5 linked regions of the Homo sapiens genome follow. The protein of the gene in region 2 interacts with the protein of the main gene of each other region in a pairwise test. Each region holds a gene or a part of one and is shown on either strand. Other genes may lie near its edges.

Evidence for each region.
Region 1: the proteins of PHYHIP (region 2) and HDAC11 interact in a two-hybrid assay, tested with the Homo sapiens proteins (one large-scale study listed by BioGRID and IntAct).
Region 3: the proteins of PHYHIP (region 2) and FAM131A interact in a two-hybrid assay, tested with the Homo sapiens proteins (one large-scale study listed by BioGRID and IntAct).
Region 4: the proteins of PHYHIP (region 2) and WDR89 interact in a two-hybrid assay, tested with the Homo sapiens proteins (one large-scale study listed by BioGRID and IntAct).
Region 5: the proteins of PHYHIP (region 2) and MAGED4B interact in a two-hybrid assay, tested with the Homo sapiens proteins (one large-scale study listed by BioGRID).

The regions. Positions count from the first base shown.
Region 1 is NC_000003.12:13,483,295-13,486,806, reverse strand, and holds part of HDAC11 (histone deacetylase 11), read right to left. Parts: intron 3,344-3,512; coding exon 3,243-3,343; intron 1-3,242. UniProt on the Homo sapiens protein: Responsible for the deacetylation of lysine residues on the N-terminal part of the core histones (H2A, H2B, H3 and H4).
Region 2 is NC_000008.11:22,225,589-22,229,100, reverse strand, and holds part of PHYHIP (phytanoyl-CoA hydroxylase-interacting protein), read left to right. Parts: intron 1-191; exon of another isoform or gene 192-313; intron 314-714; 5' UTR 715-743; coding exon 744-908; intron 909-2,075; coding exon 2,076-2,250; intron 2,251-3,512. UniProt on the Homo sapiens protein: Its interaction with PHYH suggests a role in the development of the central system.
Region 3 is NC_000003.12:184,336,180-184,340,409, reverse strand, and holds the start of FAM131A (protein FAM131A), read right to left. Parts: upstream 2,811-4,230; 5' UTR 2,780-2,810; coding exon 2,692-2,779; intron 2,024-2,691; coding exon 1,881-2,023; intron 1,578-1,880; exon of another isoform or gene 1,430-1,577; intron 1-1,429.
Region 4 is NC_000014.9:63,639,061-63,643,367, reverse strand, and holds the start of WDR89 (WD repeat-containing protein 89), read left to right. Parts: upstream 1-1,496; 5' UTR 1,497-1,564; exon of another isoform or gene 1,565-2,069; intron 2,070-4,307.
Region 5 is NC_000023.11:52,066,381-52,070,556, reverse strand, and holds the start of MAGED4B (melanoma-associated antigen D4), read left to right. Parts: upstream 1-1,373; 5' UTR 1,374-1,427; intron 1,428-2,332; exon of another isoform or gene 2,333-2,353; 5' UTR 2,354-2,384; coding exon 2,385-2,594; intron 2,595-2,858; coding exon 2,859-3,692; intron 3,693-4,103; coding exon 4,104-4,176. UniProt on the Homo sapiens protein: May enhance ubiquitin ligase activity of RING-type zinc finger-containing E3 ubiquitin-protein ligases. Proposed to act through recruitment and/or stabilization of the Ubl-conjugating enzyme (E2) at the E3:substrate complex.

The sequences.
Region 1 (3,512 bases), on a different chromosome or scaffold from region 2:
AGGAGTTCGAGACCAGCCTGGCCAACATGGTGAAAACTCCGTCTCTACTAAAAATACAAAAATTAGCCGGGCATGGTGGCAGGTGCCTGTAATCCTAGCTACTTGGGAGGCTGAGGCAGGAGAATCGCTTGAACCAAGAGGCAGAGGTTGCTGTGAGCTGAGATCGCACCACTGTACTCGAGCCTGGGCAACAAAGCGAGATTCCTTCTCCAAAAAAAAAAAAAAAAAAAAAAAACACCTCTACATGAGTATCACCTGCTCCTTTGTTTAGTCTCAACTCAAACATCACCTCCTCTGTGAGGCCCTCCCTGACCATCCAATTACCCTCTATTTTTCACTTTCTTCATAGCCCTTGGTGCTCTCTAAAATGCTCTTGGGTGGTTGCTTCCTTAATTTTAATCTTCCACGACTCAAATGCAAATCCATGGTGGCAGAGAGCCCTGCTGTCTTATTCTCTCTGTACAGTTGGCATTCAATACAGATGTGTTGAATGACTGACTACTTCTTCATCTTTTTCTTTTTTTTTTTTTTTTTTTTTTGAGATGGAGTTTCACTCTTATTGCCCAAGCTGGAGTGCAATGGCGCAATCTCGGCTCACTGCAACCTCTACCTCCCAGGTTCAAGTGATTTTCCTGCCTCAGCCTCCCAGGTAGCTGGGATTACAGGCATGCACTACCATGCCTGGCTAATTTTGTAGTTTTAGTAGAGACAGGGTTTCTCCATGTTGGCCAGGCTGATCTCAAACTCCCGACCTCAAGTGATCCGCCCGCCTCGTTCTCCCAAAGTGCTGGGATTACAGGCATGAGTCACTGCACCCGGCCTACTTCTTCATCTTAATAGGTGCCGTAGAAACCATCATGTTTCTCCTTTTGTTCTGACTGCCAGGGAGCTCCAAGCCAAATATGCAGCTGGATCACCATCTTGGTTAACTTTTTCAGTGGACATACCTGAATTCTCCTCCTACCCTCAACCTCAGTTTTCTACTTGGGACTCTACCTGTTAATACTTTTATTATTTTTTTTAAGAGACAGTCTCACTCTGTCATACCAGCTGGAGTGCAGTGGTGCAATCATAGCTCACTACAGCTTCAAACTCCTGGGCTCAAGGTCTCCTGCCTCAGGCTCCCAAGTAGCTAGGACTACAAGTGCATGCCACTACACCCAGCTATTTTGTATTATTATATATCACATAGTAAGCTGCTTTCAGGCTTTTGGGGGACCAAGGCCAGGCATGCAGCCTGCCCAACACAGTTCCCCTGAAGGCCCCTCAAATGGGTGGGGCCCTGGAACCTAGGCCCCCCACCCCCAGCCTGGTTCAATCACACCATTCTGTTTTGGTTTCTCCCTGCCCCAGCTGAGCGCCTCCTGTCCCTTCCTTCCCCTCACCCTCGGGACTCTGGCAGGCATGTCCTCCTGGCCCAGCCCTAGGCTGTGGACTGTGACCACGCATGCCTGGGCCCCAGGAAACCAGGGCAGCCAAGCACTGGGCTTCCTGCCAAGGCCTCACACCCCTCTCTCTCCCAGGAGCCAGGTTTCAACCTCTTCCTGGTAATCTTTCATGTGCTCACACTGTCGTGGCCCTATCTAGAATTCTCACACCTCAGGCTGCGGTTGGGGAGCAGGGAGGCAGCAGCCCTGACTGGGAACCTAGAAGACTGGACTGGATGACCTGCCAGGGGTCTCCCCAAGGCCCGGCCAACTTCCCAGGTGACCTTGAGCACAGCCTCTTTCTGGACCTAGGCTTTTCCACCTGTGGAGCAGAGGGGCCTGCTGGCCTCAGGCATCCACTGTGGCTCTGAGTCTAAGGTGAGCTCAGCCAGGGAGCCTGGGGGTCAGGGCTCCCACACTCTTGGGGCAGATAACCTGAGGCATCCCTGACCCCACCCCCACCAAGGCAGGCTGGCAGTACCAGATTCCAATGCAAGCCCCCGCCCCAACCTCCCCTCTGTTCCTACAAAGAGCACTGAACTGAATGCCTCAGCCCTCAGAACTTCAGCCACTAATAGGAGCTGTGTCCTTCTCTGGAAAGAGGTCACAAGCAGGCAGCCAGTGTGCCCAGTTTGGTCTACAGGTGGGCTTTTACAATCTTATAATGAGTGCCACATTAAGAAATCAGGGCCGGGTGTGGTGGCTCACCCCTATAATTCCAGCTACTTCGGAGGCTGAGGCAGAAAAATTGTTTGAACCCGGGAGGCGGAGGTTACAGTGAGCTGAGATCGTGCCACTGCACTTCAGCCTGCTCAACAAGAGCGAGACTCAGTCTCAAAAAAAAAATCAGGAAATGTCACTTAATAATCTGGATTCCTGGCTTCTCTTTGAAGACCAGGTGCTCTGGCCATGCCGGGCCCACAGTGGAGCTGAGGAGCCGCCCCTTGGGAAGGGGCAGGAGTTCACCTCAGACTCTACCACCGGCCCTCCCACTTGTTTCTCTTCTCTGCTGAGCCCTGAGGGTTTCAAATTAGTTTTTAGACCAACAATTTTCAACAAAACTTCAGCAGAAGTACTTAGACCAGAGTCTTAAACTTCAGCCCAATATAAAAAATAGGGTGGGTGCGGTGGCTCACGCCTGTAACCCCAGCACTTTGGGAGGCCGAGGTGGGCAGATGACCTGAGTTCAGGAGTTCGAGACCAGCTTGGCCAACACGGCGAAACCACATCTCTACTAAAATACAAAAAAAATTAGCCAGGCATGGTGGCACGCGCCTGTAATCCTAGCTACTCACTCAGGAGGGTGAGACAGGATAATTGCTTGAACCCGGAAGGCGGAGGTTGCAATGAGCCGAGATCACATCACTGCACTCCAGCCTGGGCGACAGAGTGAGACTCCATTTCAAGAACAAAAACCAACAAAAAAATGAACAAACAAACAAACAAAATAGACCAAAGTGAAAGAGCTATGTATGGTTGGAGGACAGGGGCTGGGGTCTCGGAGGCGTGTCGACAGAGCACAGCTTGAAAGTCATAATGTAGAAGCCTAAAATTCTATGAAGGCTTTCATACGCCCTGGAGAAGGGGAGGACACCACCCTCAGAGTGGCCTGGCCCAAACTGAGGTCTGCCTTTTTATGACCTCTCTCCTTCTCTTGGGGACCACAGACTCCCATGTTCCTCCAACACTAGGGACATGAATGGGTGCCCTGTGAGACTTGGCTTCCCCAGGCTGAGTCACCTCCTGCCTCTGGCCACTCCTGGCCAGCAGCCCCCTGCCCCAGGCCCGCAGCCCCCCAGGCCCGACATCCTGTACCTTGAGCTCATTAAGATAGCGCCTCGTGTGCACCACCAGCAGGTCCTCCTCCGAGGCCTCCCGCGCCTCCACCAGCATGCTGTCAGACAGAAGCTTCTCTTCTGAAACCACAGAGGGAGCATCCTGCTTCCCCACTGACCTCAAGGCCAGGGCCAGCCCCAGACCCTCCCACAGGCTGCAGACTTGGCCTGTGGCAGCCCCTGCCCCAGGGGTAGGTAGGCACTGCTGGCTTGTGGGCCTTCTGAGAAGGGGTAGCCTCCCCAGCCACTG
Region 2 (3,512 bases):
ATGGCCGGCCCCTAATAGATGTTAATGTTAAAAGTCATGATTGAAAGGAGTCAAGAGAAGATTGGCCGAAAGAGAAAGAGGGATCATCAAAAAAAGTTATGGGTGGAAAAAGAGCTTGAAGCCGGCTGTGCCGCGTACCCCTCCCACCACGAATGTGTCCACATGCACCAACGTGGCACTTGTCCTTCCAGCCATGTACCGCGGCAACGCTTGCTGACCCCAGTGAGGAGAGAGGCCTGAATCCGAGGGCCCTGGCACCTGTGAGCTCTTGGCTGTCACCTGCCCCAAGCCTCGCACCTCCGCTCCACAGCAGGTGCTTCCTGCGTTTCCTCCGCCTCTCACCCGTCCTCTCCACCCCCACCCCTTTCTCTTTTCACGCCTGCTGGCTGAGGGCCCCCTCCCTCCTCGGCTCCATCTGCTGCAAATCTGTCCCCGCCCGGCTTTGCAGCATTCCCACTGCCTCTGCCACCTGTCAGGTGCCGTCTGCTCTGCAGACCCCTCCGAGGAGAGCAAAGAGCCCCCCGGGCAGGCACCCCTTTCCACCCTCCATCATCCTTCTCCAGCCTCCCCTGTACAGTCTTTCCCATCTGGTTCATGAGGCATGTGGATTCCAGGGGTCCTTGAGGTTCCGCCTCGAAAGGGATATTGGGAGGAGGACATTCCAGAAAGCTCGCCGGGGTCAAGGGATGTACTGACCCTTTCCCTCCTCCTCAGTCCCCACAGGAGACAACCCTGACGGGAGCATGGAGCTGCTGTCCACGCCCCACAGCATTGAGATCAACAACATCACCTGCGACTCCTTCCGCATCTCCTGGGCCATGGAGGACAGTGACCTGGAGAGGGTCACCCATTACTTCATTGACCTTAACAAGAAGGAGAATAAGAATTCCAACAAGTTCAAGCACCGGGTGAGTAGAAGGTGTCCTGGGAGCCCCTCCCCAGCTTCTGTTCCTGAAGGAGGCCGGATAAGGGAACACCTGGAAGTGATGGCTTGGAGTCAGAGGCTGGTTAAAATCCACACTCTTCTTCCTGTGTCATTTTGGGAAAGTTACTTGACCTCTCTGAGCCTGAGCTCCTTCCCTGGTAAAGAGGGAATAACAATGCCAAGCCTCACGGGGTCGTGGAGAGGATGCAGTGAGTCATGTTTGCGTGGTGCTTGGCCCGGCGCCTAGCACAGAGGGAGCGTTGTTATCAGCGCCACAACTGAGACTTCAGGCAGGGGCAGAGAGCCCGGGTAGGGTGGGGCCGCAGGCTTCGCCTATGGGGATGACGTCTCAAGTCTCGACAAAGCCCCGGCTCAGGGCACAGCCTCGCTGTTGGCTGGGTGGGCCACACGGGCCTCGGTCGGGGCGGAGCCCTTTTGCTGTGGCCTCAGTTCTCCCTCTCGGGCCCCTCACCTGCTGGCCTGCCATTTGCTTGACTTAGAAAAGGAATGGGAGAGAGTCCTCCGTGGGTGTGTCCTTTCCTGGGGTTAAAAGCCAGTGTGGGGGTGGGTGGGAGGAAGACCCCCATCCTCTCAAGCTGGCAGAGGCAGGGGGAGTGAGGCGGCCAGCTGGCTCCCAGGCCGACGGCACCGGCGTGGGTTACTCACCCGCTCTCTTTCTCTGGAACCGGCTCTCCCGATCTGGGTGTCTTTTGGCAGGCCAGTTGCCACGGTGACGTGAATGTTCAACACCACCCCCTTAACCCTCCCCCCCAAAGAATAAGGCATATTTTCCCTTCCTCCCTGGCTTCTCAGCATTTGCCGTTGCCGTGGAGACGGCACTGCAGTGTGCAGAGCTCTCAAAGTCTCCTTAAAAAATGAAGGCCTTGCCGTCCTCAACTTTGTGGCTTTTCCCCTCCGTTCCCAAGAGAACGGGGTGTCAGGGGGGTTCGAGGAGGGGCCAAGGCTGTGGAGTGTCTGGGTGGCCTTCCCAGGAAAATGGTGGCCAGGGTATGGAGCCATTGGATCCTCAAGATTGGTCCTGCTCAGGAGAAACAGGGCCATCTGGGGAGTGGGGATTCTGGGGTGATGCCCAGATTGGGCATGAACCCCTGTTTGACGCCTGGCTCTCTGTTTGTACCCTGTTTCTCAGGACGTCCCCACCAAGCTCGTGGCCAAGGCAGTGCCGCTGCCCATGACGGTGAGAGGCCACTGGTTCCTGAGCCCCCGCACGGAGTACAGTGTGGCCGTGCAGACGGCAGTGAAGCAGAGCGATGGGGAGTACCTGGTGTCCGGCTGGAGCGAGACGGTGGAGTTCTGCACTGGGGGTGAGGCCCTGCTATCACACCCCTGTCCTGCTGCTTGGCACGTCGGGCTTTGCTGTGGTCAAGGCGGGTCTTCCTCGTAGTCCAGCAAACACTGATGAACACCTTCTGTCCACCAGGCAGCGTGCTTGGGCCACAGGGGAGATGCACGGGCATGACACCCTCCCTGCCTCCAGGAGCCCAACCTTTCTCTTCTCTCACTGGAGGCAAATGCGAACCCCACTAATCACGCTGGCAAGACCACTTCCATTAAGAAAGGGAGTTACTTTTCGGGCTTGGTACCAGATCACAGGCATCTTTTTAAACCTTGTGGTCAAAGGTGCATGACGTAAAATTTGCCGTCTCGACCATTTTGAAGTGTACAGTTCAGTGGTATTAAGTATATTCACATTGTTGTACAGCCAGTCTCCAGAACCTTTCTTCCTGGAAAACCAAAACTCTATACCCATTAAATAACCGCCCCCCATTTCCCTCTGCTAGCTACCATTCTACTTTCTGTTTCTATGAATATGACTCCTCTAGGTGTCTCATATCAGTACAATTGTATAGGATTTGTCTTTTTGTGACTGGAATATACCAAAATTTCCTTCCTTTTTGAAACTGGATAGTATTTCATTGTATGGATAGACCACATTTTGCTTAATCAATTATTTGTCAATGTGCACTTGGTGAGGCAATCACATTTCACTTGTTCTGAGCCTTCACGTAGCCTGGGAAAATGGCCCCTGGTCAATGGCCCCGCAAACTCTCTTAGCAGAACTTAACTTGTAGACTCCATCACAAACAAACAGTGGGCCTATGTGTGCTTGGTCCCTCACGACTCAGGGTCTGCCCCCACAAGATTACATTCTTTTGGTGTTCACGGTGAGAGCTGCTCCAGATCTCTCTGTCACACAGAAGAGACACGGAACATTCTCAGCCCCGGGCCTCTGAGGCTGCTGGCTCTATCCTTTGCCAAGATTTATGCCCCAAGTCTCCTTGAGCTGCTGTTGTCTTTTGAGTGGTGCTTTTTCTTTTTTTTCTCCTTCTGCCTTTTTTTTTTTTTTGAGATGGAATCTCGCTCTTGTCGCCTCCTGGCTGGAGTGCAGTGGCGTGATCTCGGCTCACTGCAATCTCCGCCTCCCGGGTTCAAGCGATTCTCCTGCCTCAGCCTCCTGAGTAGCTGGGATTACAGACGCCCACCACCATGCCTGGCTATTTTTTTTTTTTTTTTGTATTTTTAGTAGAGATGGGGTTTCACCATGTTGGCCAGGCTGATCTTGAAC
Region 3 (4,230 bases), on a different chromosome or scaffold from region 2:
GGCGGAGGTTGCGGTGAGCCGAGATCGCACCACTGCACTCCAGCTTAGGCTACGGTGCAAGACTCCATCTCAAAAAAAAAAAAAAAAAAAAAAAATGCATAGGCTGGGCCAGGCGTGGTGGCTCACGCCTGTAATTCCAGCACTTTGGGAGGCCAAGGGGCCAAGGTGGGTAGATCATCTGAGGTCAGGAGTTTGAGACCAGCCAGGCCAACATGGTGAAACCCCATCTCCACTAAAAATAATTTAAAAAATGGGCAGGGCATGGTGGCGGGTGCCTGTTATCCCAGCTACTCAGGAGGCTGAGGCAGGAGAATTGCTTGAACCCAGGAGGCGGAGATTGCAGTGAGCCAAGATTGTGCCACTGCACTCCAGCCTGGGCGACAGAAAAAGACTCTGTCTCAAAAACAAGCAAACAAAAATGCAAAGGCTGGATGAATGAGGTAAGATATAATGTAAACAGTTTTCCTGGAGTGCAGCTGGTCACAACACATCTCTAAAATCTTGTCTAGCCTACGCTACTGTCCAGTGAGGTTAGTGCAGGCATCATACCCAGGCCCTGAAGGATCCCACTCTGTGACACCCTTGCCTCCTTCCAAGCCTCCTTTGAATCCACTGCTGATCTCCTCTGCCCAATAAAACCCCCCTTCTCAGGCCGGGCGCAGTGGCTCACGCCTGTAATCCCAGCATTTTGGGAGGCCGAAGCAGGCGGATCACCTGAGGTCGGGAGTTGGAGACCAGCCTGGCCAACATGGTGAAACCCCGCCTCTACTAAAAATACAAAATCAGCCGGGCGTGGCAGCGCATGCCTGTAATCCCAGCTACTCTGGAGGCTGAGGCAGGATAATCGCTTGAACCCCAGAGGCAGAGGCTGCGGTGAGCCGAGATCGCACCATTGCATTCCAGCCTGGGCAACAAGAGCGAAACTCCGTCTCAAATAAATAAATACATAAAAATAAATAACAAAAAACAAAAACCCTTCTCCACCAATCCCTGTCAGCAAGCAGCCCGCCTGCCTCCAGGAAAAGGAACTCAGCTTTCCTCTGGGCCAAGAATGCCATCCTTACGTGAAAAAATGCTTGCCATCACTTAAGGCCCATCTCAAGTGTCACCTGCAAATAATGCTTTCAGCCGACAGCCTCTTCTTTTCTCTGACACACCCCGCCCCCATCATTGCCCTTGTCTGTCTCCCGAGGGAGCTCAGGATGGCAAGGCCTAAGTCTGATGCACGTAAGTTCCTAACTCCACCCTGTACCTGGCTCAGGGCTCCCTGACAAGCCCCAGCAAATGTTTCCCTCACTTAATGAAGTTGGAGGCACACATCCCTCCCCGGCATTGCCCAGCTCTCTTCTATCACGTTCCCGTCCCTCACAAGGGCAGCCAACACTGCCCCTTGACCTGAGGCCCACCCTCGATCCCTCCCCTTGGGTACCTGGCTGACAGGGCCCCCAGGGTGGCGCCAGTAGCCTCCAGCCAGGCCTAGGCGGGGGAGCACCTGCTGGGTGTTTCTTAGCTTGCTCTCCCTCCCTCGCTTCGCTCCCCTCAGCCGCCGCCATCCGTGCCCGGCGCTCCGCGCAGCTGCGGCCCAGGCCCAGAGAAAAGGTGTATGTCTCCCTGGCAACCCATCACCACGCAACAGGGTCTCCCGGGATACGGCCCGGGATGCGCTGACGTCAGCGCGGAAGGCGCGAGCTCTCCGCCTGCTGGCACAGCGCCGAGCAGAGCAGACCGGCACGGGGGCGGCCTCCCGGCCCGCCGCCGGATAGCGCCTCCGCCCGCCGGAAAAGGGAGCCAGAAGCTGGCTGGCCAGGCGTGGGTGGGGGCTGCAGATCCCCTTTATATGGATGACGTCCTCCTTCCCCCCACCACCAGGGGCCCAGCACCTCTGGCAAGTCCTGACTGTCCACCGAGGAAGGGCGGGAGGACCTGCTCCAGCCTCGGAGGGTTCGAGCAGATCCCAAAGAGGATAGAGAGAGACCCCGAGGAAGTTCGATCCACTCCACAGCCCAAGCGGGGTCCGAGGACACTGAGAGGAAGGGGAAAGGCTGTTGAGCTGTGCCCCTACTTCTGCAGAGATCCCCATTTTCATCCAGTATTGCCGTATCATTTCTCGGCCCCTCCCCCACCTTCCAGAAGACCAGCGCCCACTGAGTGCTCTCCTCAACTCTAAAAGCCCCCATCCCACACATCACTGACCCTCGGGCCCCTGGGGCCATTCTGTGGCAGCCCACTTGCCACCTTCCTGCTCTGGATAAATTTTGCCTCAAAACCCTAGGGTGAAACCAAACAATGATAAATTCTGACTCTCCTTCCCGTTTCCCAGCCTACCCATTCCTCTTGGAAAGCACACTGAGTTCTTCCGCCATCACTGTCCCCCCCACCACCGCCACCCTGGACCCTTTGCAGGAGGGTTGCCTTCCTTCTCTCTTCCTGCTGCCTTCTTTCCTCTCGCCAGCCTCAGCTGGTCCACAGCTCTTTACTCTTCTTTTCTGACGAACTCATGATATTTTTTCTGATTTTCACCCCTGTCCCCTGAAGCCGTTTCCTGATGCCCTGTCTGGCCCCAGCCTGGTTCTCCCTGTTTCAGCCTGGTTCTTAATATCTAAGCCAGAGTAATTTTCCTTTTCCACCTAAGCACCCTACTGCTCAGCTTCCCATCATCTCCCAGATCACATCCATGATCCCTGGTCTCACCTCTGCGACTTGTCTGACAAGTCCATCGTCCTCCAGGCCCTTCACGCTGCCACAGAAACATTTTGCCCAGCACAGAAATCATAGGCATGCTGGCTGTGTTGATGCAGAGAACCAAAAGCCCAGAACCGCTCCAGGCTCAGCTCCCAGTTCTATTCCTGTTTTGGCTCCGGATGCTGAGCCAGTCCCCTCCCCATTTGGAACCTGTGCCTAGTCACATAAGGAGAACATTCCTGCCTCATGGCTCTGAGGAGGTGGGAACACCAGGGCTCAGCCAAGCTCTCTGGGACTCGGGGAGCTGAGGCCCATTCCCTAGACAGTGCCAACAGGCAATGTACATCACAACTGACCTTTAGCTGGAGCAGCCGTCTCTATCCCTGAGCCTCGGCCAGCTGTTGGTCCCCAGAAATGCTACCAACCAGAAGGAAAACAGGAGGTTACAGGCCATCCCTGGCCCCCAACTGGTACCTAACCAGGGCTCTCGAGGCCAGTCCTGAGGTCAGCCAAACTCACCCCTGACAAGAGAAGGTGATGACTTCCTGAACTCCAAGCCTTGATAGGGCCAGAGAGATCAGAGCAGTCAGCTGCTCCTCAGCTTCAAAAGCCACGAGGTTAACTTAGGACTACAAATCCCAGAATTCCTCAAGGGAAGTACAAATCTCAGCCAGTCTTAGCTCCAAAGAACATCAAGTACCAACCACACCAAGGCCTGTGTGACTGACCACCTGCCCTGAAGGTCCAGGACCCATCCCAAACCCAGTCCTGCCTTGCCTTATGCGTGGAGAAATCCACCACACCGGAGTAAAGGAAGCTGGCCGACCTCTGATGCACAGGACTACGGCCAGGCCCGGTGTGCATGGCCACCCACGGAAACCGAGGCCCAGGCAGGGGTCAGCACTGTGGGAAGGAAGCCCTGATGGCCTGCCTCTGGGTTCCTCTTTCCCTCCACAGAGTAGAGTGATTTGTTTTTGCTGAGTGGGGGCAGGACATTAAAACAACTGTAATAGGTGAGAGGTGATTCAGTGTTCACAGGTGCCCCAAACGGGACCTCAGTCCCCCTTCGCCGACTGACTGAAGAGGGGAGTCAATGTCCGACAAAAATTCTGTGGTAGGGTGCTTAGCCAGGACCGAAAGGCTACCTCTTTAAGAAGATGGGGACACGGCTGGGAGAAGCAGGTTCCCAGCACAGGGCCACTCCCAGGACTGTGAAGGCAGAGGTGTAGGCGGAGGGGAGTGTGTGTGTGGGCGCGCAAGGCCAGTCGCCGAGGGCTGGAGTGGTGGGGGCATCGGGCTGCCCAGCCCCTCCCGGGGCTGTGCGTCTCCGGCCACCCTGAGCAGTGGGCACACGGCAGCCAGCGGCGAGACCATGCGTCTGCCCTGCAAAACCCCAAGGCAGGCAGGCCGTGGGAGCGAACCGGAGTCGGTCTGGCCCCTTCCCTGCTCATTCCCGCTCCCTCCTGTTGCCTGGCCCGCCTCCCGGTGCAGGCTCCTCCCTCTCCCGACACCGGCCCCCTCCTCAAGGCCCCCACCCACCCGCGGCCC
Region 4 (4,307 bases), on a different chromosome or scaffold from region 2:
AATTACAAGCATCAGTAATGAACGCAGTTTTTGCTTAGCTTTAATTCTGTAAAGTGTACTTAATTTTAATCTAGAAGTGTAGAAGTATTACATACATCCGAAATCATGTTTTTTTCTTCTACAGTCGAAAGTTTGTATTACATGTAAAATAGGAAAAAAATATTAAAATTTTTCGAAAGCGAAAAGTCTACTCAGCAAGTTTTTGGTATTTATTAATGGTTTTACTTTTGCTAGACACAAAAATGAAATACCGCTAAATTAGCTCACAGAAGAGTTCAGGATTCTATAGACTCAGGAAAAGCCTGTCCTAAAACTGTTTTAATAAAGGCTGAAAATAGACACTATAATACAGTCTTTAATAATATACAATGTGTATTCCTCCTGATGGTGGTCTTGCTTGACATTTTAAGCATAGCCCTATTTTCCTGTGAAGATAGCAGCCAGTTCTGCTTCATGTCATAACAACACTTGATTCATGTAAGCAGCTGCTACCTATGCCATCACAGTACACATAATTGCTAAATGTAGGGTTCAAATAATCGTAAATGGACACTAATATGAAAATCAGACTGTTTTGTTGTAACAGCAAAAGTTTTAGAAACAAATAATTTTAGTATCTACTTAGTACAGTAAGCATGAACATATAGTATACAGCTAGGCACAGCAGTAAATTGTTGGAAACACTAACATTTATTGTTTACGAACATACATGCAGTGTTTACACATTTCTTAAATGTTGTCTTTAATGCTGCTGATAAACGAAAGGATAAAAAGTCCAACAAACCACAATAAATGTCAATGGGTGTTATTAACAACATGAAAGAACTCAGTAGCAACAACCACATTTAAAGCTACAGGACTCGAAAGTTCCGGACTACAAATCCCAGAGTTCCCTAGAGCCCAGGCGGAGCTACCTTCAAACTGATCGCTTTTTCACCCAATGACAGCCAGAGAATCCCTAAACCACATTCAGCCCGGCCTGAAGGGCTGGTTTCTTCGCGTGAAAACAATAAGGTATTACGTAGACTTTCTGAACACGAGTGGTAGTTTCAGGGCCTGAGTCTAACTACTAAATTATTTCTCCCCGCATTAGTCTCCTAGTCATCTTAATAACTCTCTACCCAACTCTGGCTCGGTGGAAACTCGGAACGTCTAAATGCTGAAACTCACGTAAATCAGTACCAGCGGATGCATCCAGTCAGCCACGAGGAAGGCGGAATCCGCCTTATTCTTGCCCTTTATTGGCCACGCATCCCACCAATGGGGCCATTAAACTTCCGCTAACGCAGCGTACGGCGTGGTGGTGTGAGCGTTGTACGTACGCTGGGTCTACGAAGGGGCAGGCGTTCTGCTTTCGTCCAATCGGAAGCTAGCAAGAATTCCCCGGGCCGCTATGCCCCACTTCTTTCGCGTCGCGTTACGGGCCGCCTCTCTGCAGCCGACCAATCCTCTTGATTTTCTTGTGCGCATTACCCAATCAGAGAGGTCGAGGCGGGGTTCCACTTGACCGCTCTAAGCCGCCGCGCAGCCTGCGTTTTCTCCGGTACAGGTTGAGGCTACTAAGGTACATTTTGCTGGGCCAGGCTGGGCGGGTCCCCGGGATGGGCAGCCCTCTCGACGAGCGGCGACGCCGTGGTTGAGTCTAGAAAGCTAGAGTTGCTGGACAGCTATCGCGGGAGCGCGGAGGGAAGTGGGAGGTCTGGACGGAGTGTGCACGTGTTGGCAGTCTCGCTCCGCCGTCGGAGCCACCAGGTCAAACCTGTGCTGGCCCTGGCCAAAGAAACTTCTGCGGGTCAGGCTGCTGTTGCCGGTGCAGTTCCCAGTACTTCCTCTGGGGCGTTTTTCAATAAAAGCCAAACGCCCTTGCTCATTTTCAGGGAAAGACCTGTTTCCTCCTGCTCTTTCCTCTCCACGGATACTCTCCCCACCACTAAAAGGGTTTAGTATAATCCTTTTGTAGGCCAGAAAGCAGATTTTCACTTGGGAAGAGACGACCCGTAGTATGGGATGTGGTATGATACCAGCAACTGGTCTATTATATCATTTAAACCACATGGCTATCTAAAGAGGTAGGTACTGTGAGTGTTCTCATTTTCACGCGAAGCAGTGTTAGACATTACTCATTCTTGTGTTTTCTTTAGCTTGTCTCTGACAAATTGTGGCATTCAGCTTCCATGGATGTAAAATTAAAAGATGGTATAATTTGTAAAATGTTGCTCCTGTTTTCTTTTTTGTTTTTCTTTTTCTTTTTCTTTTTTTTTTTTTTTTTTGAGATGGAGTCTCAGGCTGTCGCGCAGGCTGGAGTGCAGTGGGGCGATCTCGGCTTACTGCAACCTCCGCCCCCCGGGTTCAAGCGATTCTCCAGCCTCAGCCTCCCGAGTAGCCGGGATTATAGGCGCCTGGCACCACGCCCGGCTAATTTTTGTATTTTTAGTAGAGACGGGATTTCACCATACTGGTCAGGCCGGTCTCGAACTCCTGACTTCAGGTGATCCACTCGCCTCTGCCTCCCAAAGTGCTGGGATTACAGGCGTGAGCCACCGTGCCCGGCCGTTTTCTTTATTAATTTGAAATTATTTAAAGTCAATAAAAGCCTGGGCGCGGTGGCTCACGCCAGTAATCCCAGCACTTTGGGAGGCCGAGGCGGGCGGATCACGAGGTCAGGAGTTCGAGACCAGCCTGGTCAACATGGTGAAACCCCCGTCTCTACTACGAATGCAAAAATGTGGCGGGCGCCTGTAGTCCCAGCTACTCGGGAGGCTGAGGCAGGAGAATCGCTTGAACCCGGGAGGCAGAGGTTGCAGTGAGCCAAGATCGTGCTACTGTACTCCAGCCTGGGCGACAGAGTGAGACAACGTCTCAAAAAAGAGAAAAAAAAAAGTCAATAAAACACACCTAGAAGTGAATTAATCGATTGTTACCAAGGTAAAATGATCTAGAGGAAAGACATCGCAGTAGGCACCAGTTACTGACCTTTGACTGGACAAGTCAGCATCAGCTTTTTCACCTGTATAATTGAAATAAATACCAAACTTGACTACTTAGAGTTCTGAGGATTAAATAATTTAATAGATACAAAATATGTTACCGATGAAAGCCACGTGACTGTTTCTGCTTTTCAAATTCTTTCTTGTGGAGCCTGGACTGCACTGCAACCTATGGCCGAGTAAAACAGTGGTAACTTGCAGTCAAGTACCATTTAAGTGAGAAATCCTCTGAAACGTCTATGGACTGCTTATCTCCTTGTTCAGTATTCAGGAATACTTTCCTGTGAATGCAGCTATGTTACTTACCTGGTTTGTATTCTTACCTTAGATTGTTGTAGCTATTGTAAAGCAAAAGTAAGATCAAGCCCATGTAACTACTTTTTGGGTTCTTTTCTCTCACTTTGTAAATACAGGGTGTTTTTCCAGACGGGAGTGCGGTGGCACAGTCTTAGCTCACTGCAGCCTCGAACTTCTGAGCTCAAGTGATCCTCCTGCCTCAGCCTCCCAAGTGGCAGGGATTACACACGAGCCACTGTGCCAAACCCGTGAAGTTTTTGAGTTGTACTTTTGTACTAAAGTCATGACTACTTTTTCTGCAACTGACACTATGAGCTGCAAATACGACTGAAGATGCTACTGCTTTTTTACTTTTTCCCTATGTGCTTTAAAGAACTACATTTTCAGTGATTTCCATGTGTTTAAGATATTTTCATTTACTTGGTAGAAAATACAAGAGAATTTTGATAAATCTGAACTGGAATGGTCTTTATGTTAATTCTGTTCAATATTTTAGGGCAGATTATGTACAGATTATCGCCAAACTGTCAAAAGGGTGTATTTTGTTCATATAGCTACTGTAACAAATTACAACAGATTTAGTGACTTCGAATAACACACATTTATTCTTTCTGCCTTTGTTTCTTTCTTTTTTTTTTTTCCTTTGGTGAAAAGTACACACTTAAGAAAGGGGAGTGCAGATGTACTCAAGAGAGTCACCTCTTCCTTTTTTTTTTTTTTTTTTTTGGTAGAGATGAGGTCTCGCTATGTTGCCCAGGTGGGTCTCAAACTCCTGGGCTCAAGCAGTCCTCCCACCTTGGCCTCCCAAAGTTCTGGCATTACTGGCATGAGCCACCATGCTCAGCCTCATTTATTGTCTTTTAGTTCTGGAGGTCAGAAGTATGAAATCAGTTTCACTGGACTAAAGTCAAAGTGTTGCAGGCCCAATTCCTTCTGGAGGCTGTGAGAAGAAAATCCATTTCCTTACCTTTTTCAGCTTGTAGTGGCTGCCTGTCTTCCTTGGCTTGTGGCTCTTTTCTGCAC
Region 5 (4,176 bases), on a different chromosome or scaffold from region 2:
AGCAATACCTTCCATTCATACACAGGGGTCCTGGTGAGGCTGACATAAAAACAAATATAAAAATCTACTACGAATTTTACAAACAGTCCAGGTTCGACTGCAGATGAGACCACAGCATTTTCTGCCTCAAAAGACATCCAAGTGGAGATGTCACGTAGGCAGGTGAATGTACTATGCACTTGGACCTCAAAAGTGAAGTTTGAACTGGGCTTGTAGATTGTGGAGTAATTAGCTCAGACACACAGGTGTCTAATTGTCCTGGCGGACACCAGGAGGGTCTCAGCGGCAGCGTGATTGTATCGCTGATAAGGAAGAGGCCTGACAATCTGAGTAGAGAGTGGACCCGGTGGAGCAATTCTCATACCTGGATGGACCCACATAGAGCCGCAGAGGCTGGGGGCGAGGCGGGGGGAGGCTCTGTCTCCCTGTGTCCTGAATGCGGAGCATGAACTTAGGCCTTCTACAGCACAAACCTTGCTTCTTTGGGACAGATGTTGGGGTGGGGGAGGCCTGTCACTCAGACGGAGGAGGCGGTGCCTCTGTCCCCAGGCCAGCAGGAGCAGGAGGTGGACTTTGGAGTCCGGAAGACCCAGGTTCAAATTTTGCATTTTCTGTTTCCTGGCTCTGTGGTCTAGTTCATGCAATGTGTCTGTGCCTCAGCTTCCTGACACGCCAAATGGGGATGCTGACATCCACTTCCCAGCGCTGCTGTGAGAGGAAGAAAAGCCCCAGCACAGATCCCTCTGTGACATACAAGCTGCATAAAGGGTAGCTGAGGAAGCAGATGTTCCCAGTATGTCTGGGGGCCAGAGAGTTGGCTAGTGGAGAAGCACACAAAGCGAAGTGCCATCCTCTGGCCATGTCCATTTCGTAGCCCCGCAGGTTGAGGATTTCCACTTGTTGCAGTTAGAGACCCAGCTTATTAATTGTGAGACCTCACTAATTGTGACCTAAGGGGTCTTGCCGGGGAAACGGGGCATAGTGTATCCCAGACCAGGCTGGAGGAGTTTGGGTGAAAGGGCAGGGCAGGACAGAGAAGCATTGTGCAAAAGTGGGGGGACTGAGAAGAGATGATTGGGTGGGTCGAGCTGCACTGCAGGGTATGAGTGTGCGCGCCCGCGGTAGGAGGAGGAGGAGGAGGAGAGGTGAAGTGGATCTGGCGGGAAGAGCCCCCCGCACCCTACCTTCGACCCCACCGCCCACCCACCCGCGGAATCGCATGCGCACTGGAGACCTGGAGGAAAGGGCTTTTGTTGGGAAAGCGGGCGGGCTGGAGGGGTCCGCGCATGCGCAGGCTACCCAGCCGCGGGGGGTGCACGGAGAAAAGGGGCGGGGTGGTCCGGGCTGCTGTGCTGGCAGCAGTAGGCGAGGGCGCGGCTGCGGGGTTCCTGGTGCTGAGGACGGACGCCATTGGAGTTCCCGAGAAGGTAAGGATCCAGCCCCAGACAGGACCGGGAGAGGGCGAGTGGAACCCGACACGCTGCGCCCTCCCTCCGCCTCCGGATCTGAACAAAGCCCAAGCACTCAGAACCGGAACCCCATTAGACCCAAGGTCTAGATAGGAGCCCCCATCACCATCAGACCCAGGCGCCCCGATCTGAGCCCTACTGAAACCGGAGCCCAGGATCCTCACCCCTTTAGCAGACCCGTGTGCTCCGAGCTGAGCTCCCTTGGACCTGAGGCCCCACCCCCACCCCAACCACTCCTAGATTACTCGAACCGAGCTGACCGCTTGCCCCCTTCCTGGAGTGCCCAGTCCTCGCGTTTGAGATCTGCAGCGCTCCGATTGGAGCCTCACCTAGGTCTGAGGCCCCCACTCCATCCGCCTCTAGTGCTCGAGTCTGAGCCCCACCTAGGCCCCCCGCCCGGACCTAGCCAAAGGTCCCTGGGGTTCTGTTTCGCAGAGCTTGCGGCTTGCCACTGTCCCTGTTGTCTGAGCTCTCCCATCTGCTCCCCCTTCATCCCGGTCCCCTTCTCTGGCCCGTAAATCCAAACCCTTTGTTTCTCTCTTCCCCAATGCATTCCCTTTGGGACTCTTCGGACCCCAGCCCTCCAGAACACCCCCTCGTCAAATCTAGCCGCTGGGATGGCGAGCCTGCCCATCCTAAACTCCGCTTTCAGTGCGGCGCCTCCTGCGACCTCCTCTGTCCCTTTCCTTGGGCTCTGTCCCTGACCAGGTCTACCCCATCAGAAAGCCAAACCGTCTCCCCCCCGCTCCTCCTCCCCCCCCCCGCCCCCTACTGCCTAATATTGCCTAGTAACCTGATGATTGTCGCCCCTCACCTCCCGGGAGATCCCGCCTCCCATTGGATCCCGCCCCCTCCCCCTGCAGCTGCTTCACCCTCCCTCTCAGGCTGAGCTCTCATCTCCCTGGGACCCGCAGCATGGCTGAGGGAAGCTTCAGCGTGCAATCGGAAAGCTACAGTGTTGAAGACATGGATGAGGGTAGCGACGAAGTCGGGGAGGAAGAGATGGTTGAAGGCAACGACTATGAAGAATTCGGTGCGTTTGGTGGCTATGGCACCCTCACCAGCTTTGACATCCATATCCTCAGAGCCTTCGGAAGCTTGGGTCCAGGCCTTCGCATCTTATCGGTGAGGCCCCTTCCTGGACACCTGCTGGCCTGGGCCTTTCCCCTGTGAATGGGGGAGGGAGGAGGGGGGAGCCAGGAGGGTTGTGTGGGAAAGGACTGCCCAGCTTCCCAAGCCTTCCCTCCCCTGCTCGGAAGAAGAAGATTTGGGAAGGTCTTGGGGTGTTCAGGGCTGACTGCTGGGAAGAGGCTGGCCAGCACAGGGAAGCTAACACAAGTATGTCGTCGAGTGGCCTGCCTTCCCCAACCCCTCTCTCTGGCCTTGCAGAATGAGCCCTGGGAACTGGAAAACCCTGTGCTGGCCCAGACCCTGGTGGAGGCATTGCAGCTGGATCCGGAAACACTTGCCAATGAGACGGCCGCCCGTGCTGCCAACGTAGCCCGCGCCGCCGCCTCCAACCGTGCGGCTCGGGCCGCTGCCGCCGCTGCCCGTACCGCCTTCAGTCAGGTGGTCGCTAGCCACCGGGTGGCCACGCCGCAGGTCTCAGGAGAGGATACCCAGCCCACGACCTACGCCGCCGAGGCTCAGGGGCCCACCCCTGAGCCACCCCTTGCTTCTCCGCAGACCTCCCAGATGTTAGTCACCAGTAAGATGGCTGCCCCCGAGGCTCCGGCAACCTCCGCACAGTCCCAGACAGGCTCCCCGGCCCAGGAGGCTGCTACTGAGGGCCCTAGTAGCGCCTGTGCTTTCTCTCAGGCTCCGTGTGCCAGGGAGGTGGACGCCAACCGGCCCAGCACAGCCTTCCTGGGCCAGAATGATGTCTTCGATTTCACTCAGCCGGCAGGTGTCAGTGGCATGGCCTTCCCGCGCCCCAAGAGACCTGCCCCAGCCCAAGAGGCTGCCACAGAGGGCCCCAGTGCTGCCTCTGGTGTGCCCCAGACGGGACCTGGCAGGGAGGTGGCAGCCACCCGGCCCAAGACCACCAAGTCGGGGAAGGCGCTGGCCAAGACTCGGTGGGTGGAGCCTCAGAATGTTGTGGCAGCAGCTGCTGCCAAGGCCAAGATGGCCACGAGCATCCCTGAGCCGGAGGGTGCAGCTGCTGCCACTGCTCAGCACAGTGCTGAGCCCTGGGCCAGGATGGGAGGCAAGAGGACCAAGAAGGTGAGATCCCCCTGCCCCCTGCCACCTCCACACCCCCTTGCTCCTGTCCTTTCCTTCTCCTCCCTTTCCTGCTCCTCTCCTCCCTCTCCTCTCCCCCTTCTTCCTCTCTTCTCCTCTTTCCCCTCCTTCTCTCCTCACCTCCCCTCTCCTCCCCTCCTCTCCTCTCAGCTAGTCCATGTTTCTCCAACACAAGTTTGCTGAGCATGTTTTCACTCCACGTAGTCCCTACCCTCAGGACTGGTGGGAGAAGAGGCTGGCTCAGTGCCTGGCACTTAGTAAGCACGCAGCACATGCCAGCCGCTGCTGGTACTGCTCTCATTTCCAAGAGCCTGCTACGGGTGAGGTGCGTGCCGGGTGCTTTGGCACGGGGAGCCTGGTAGCCCTGGGTCTCTCCTCTCTCAAATGATACAGTCCAAGCACCTGGATGATGAGTATGAGAGCAGCGAGGAGGAGAGAGAGACTCCCGCGGTCCCACCCACCTGGA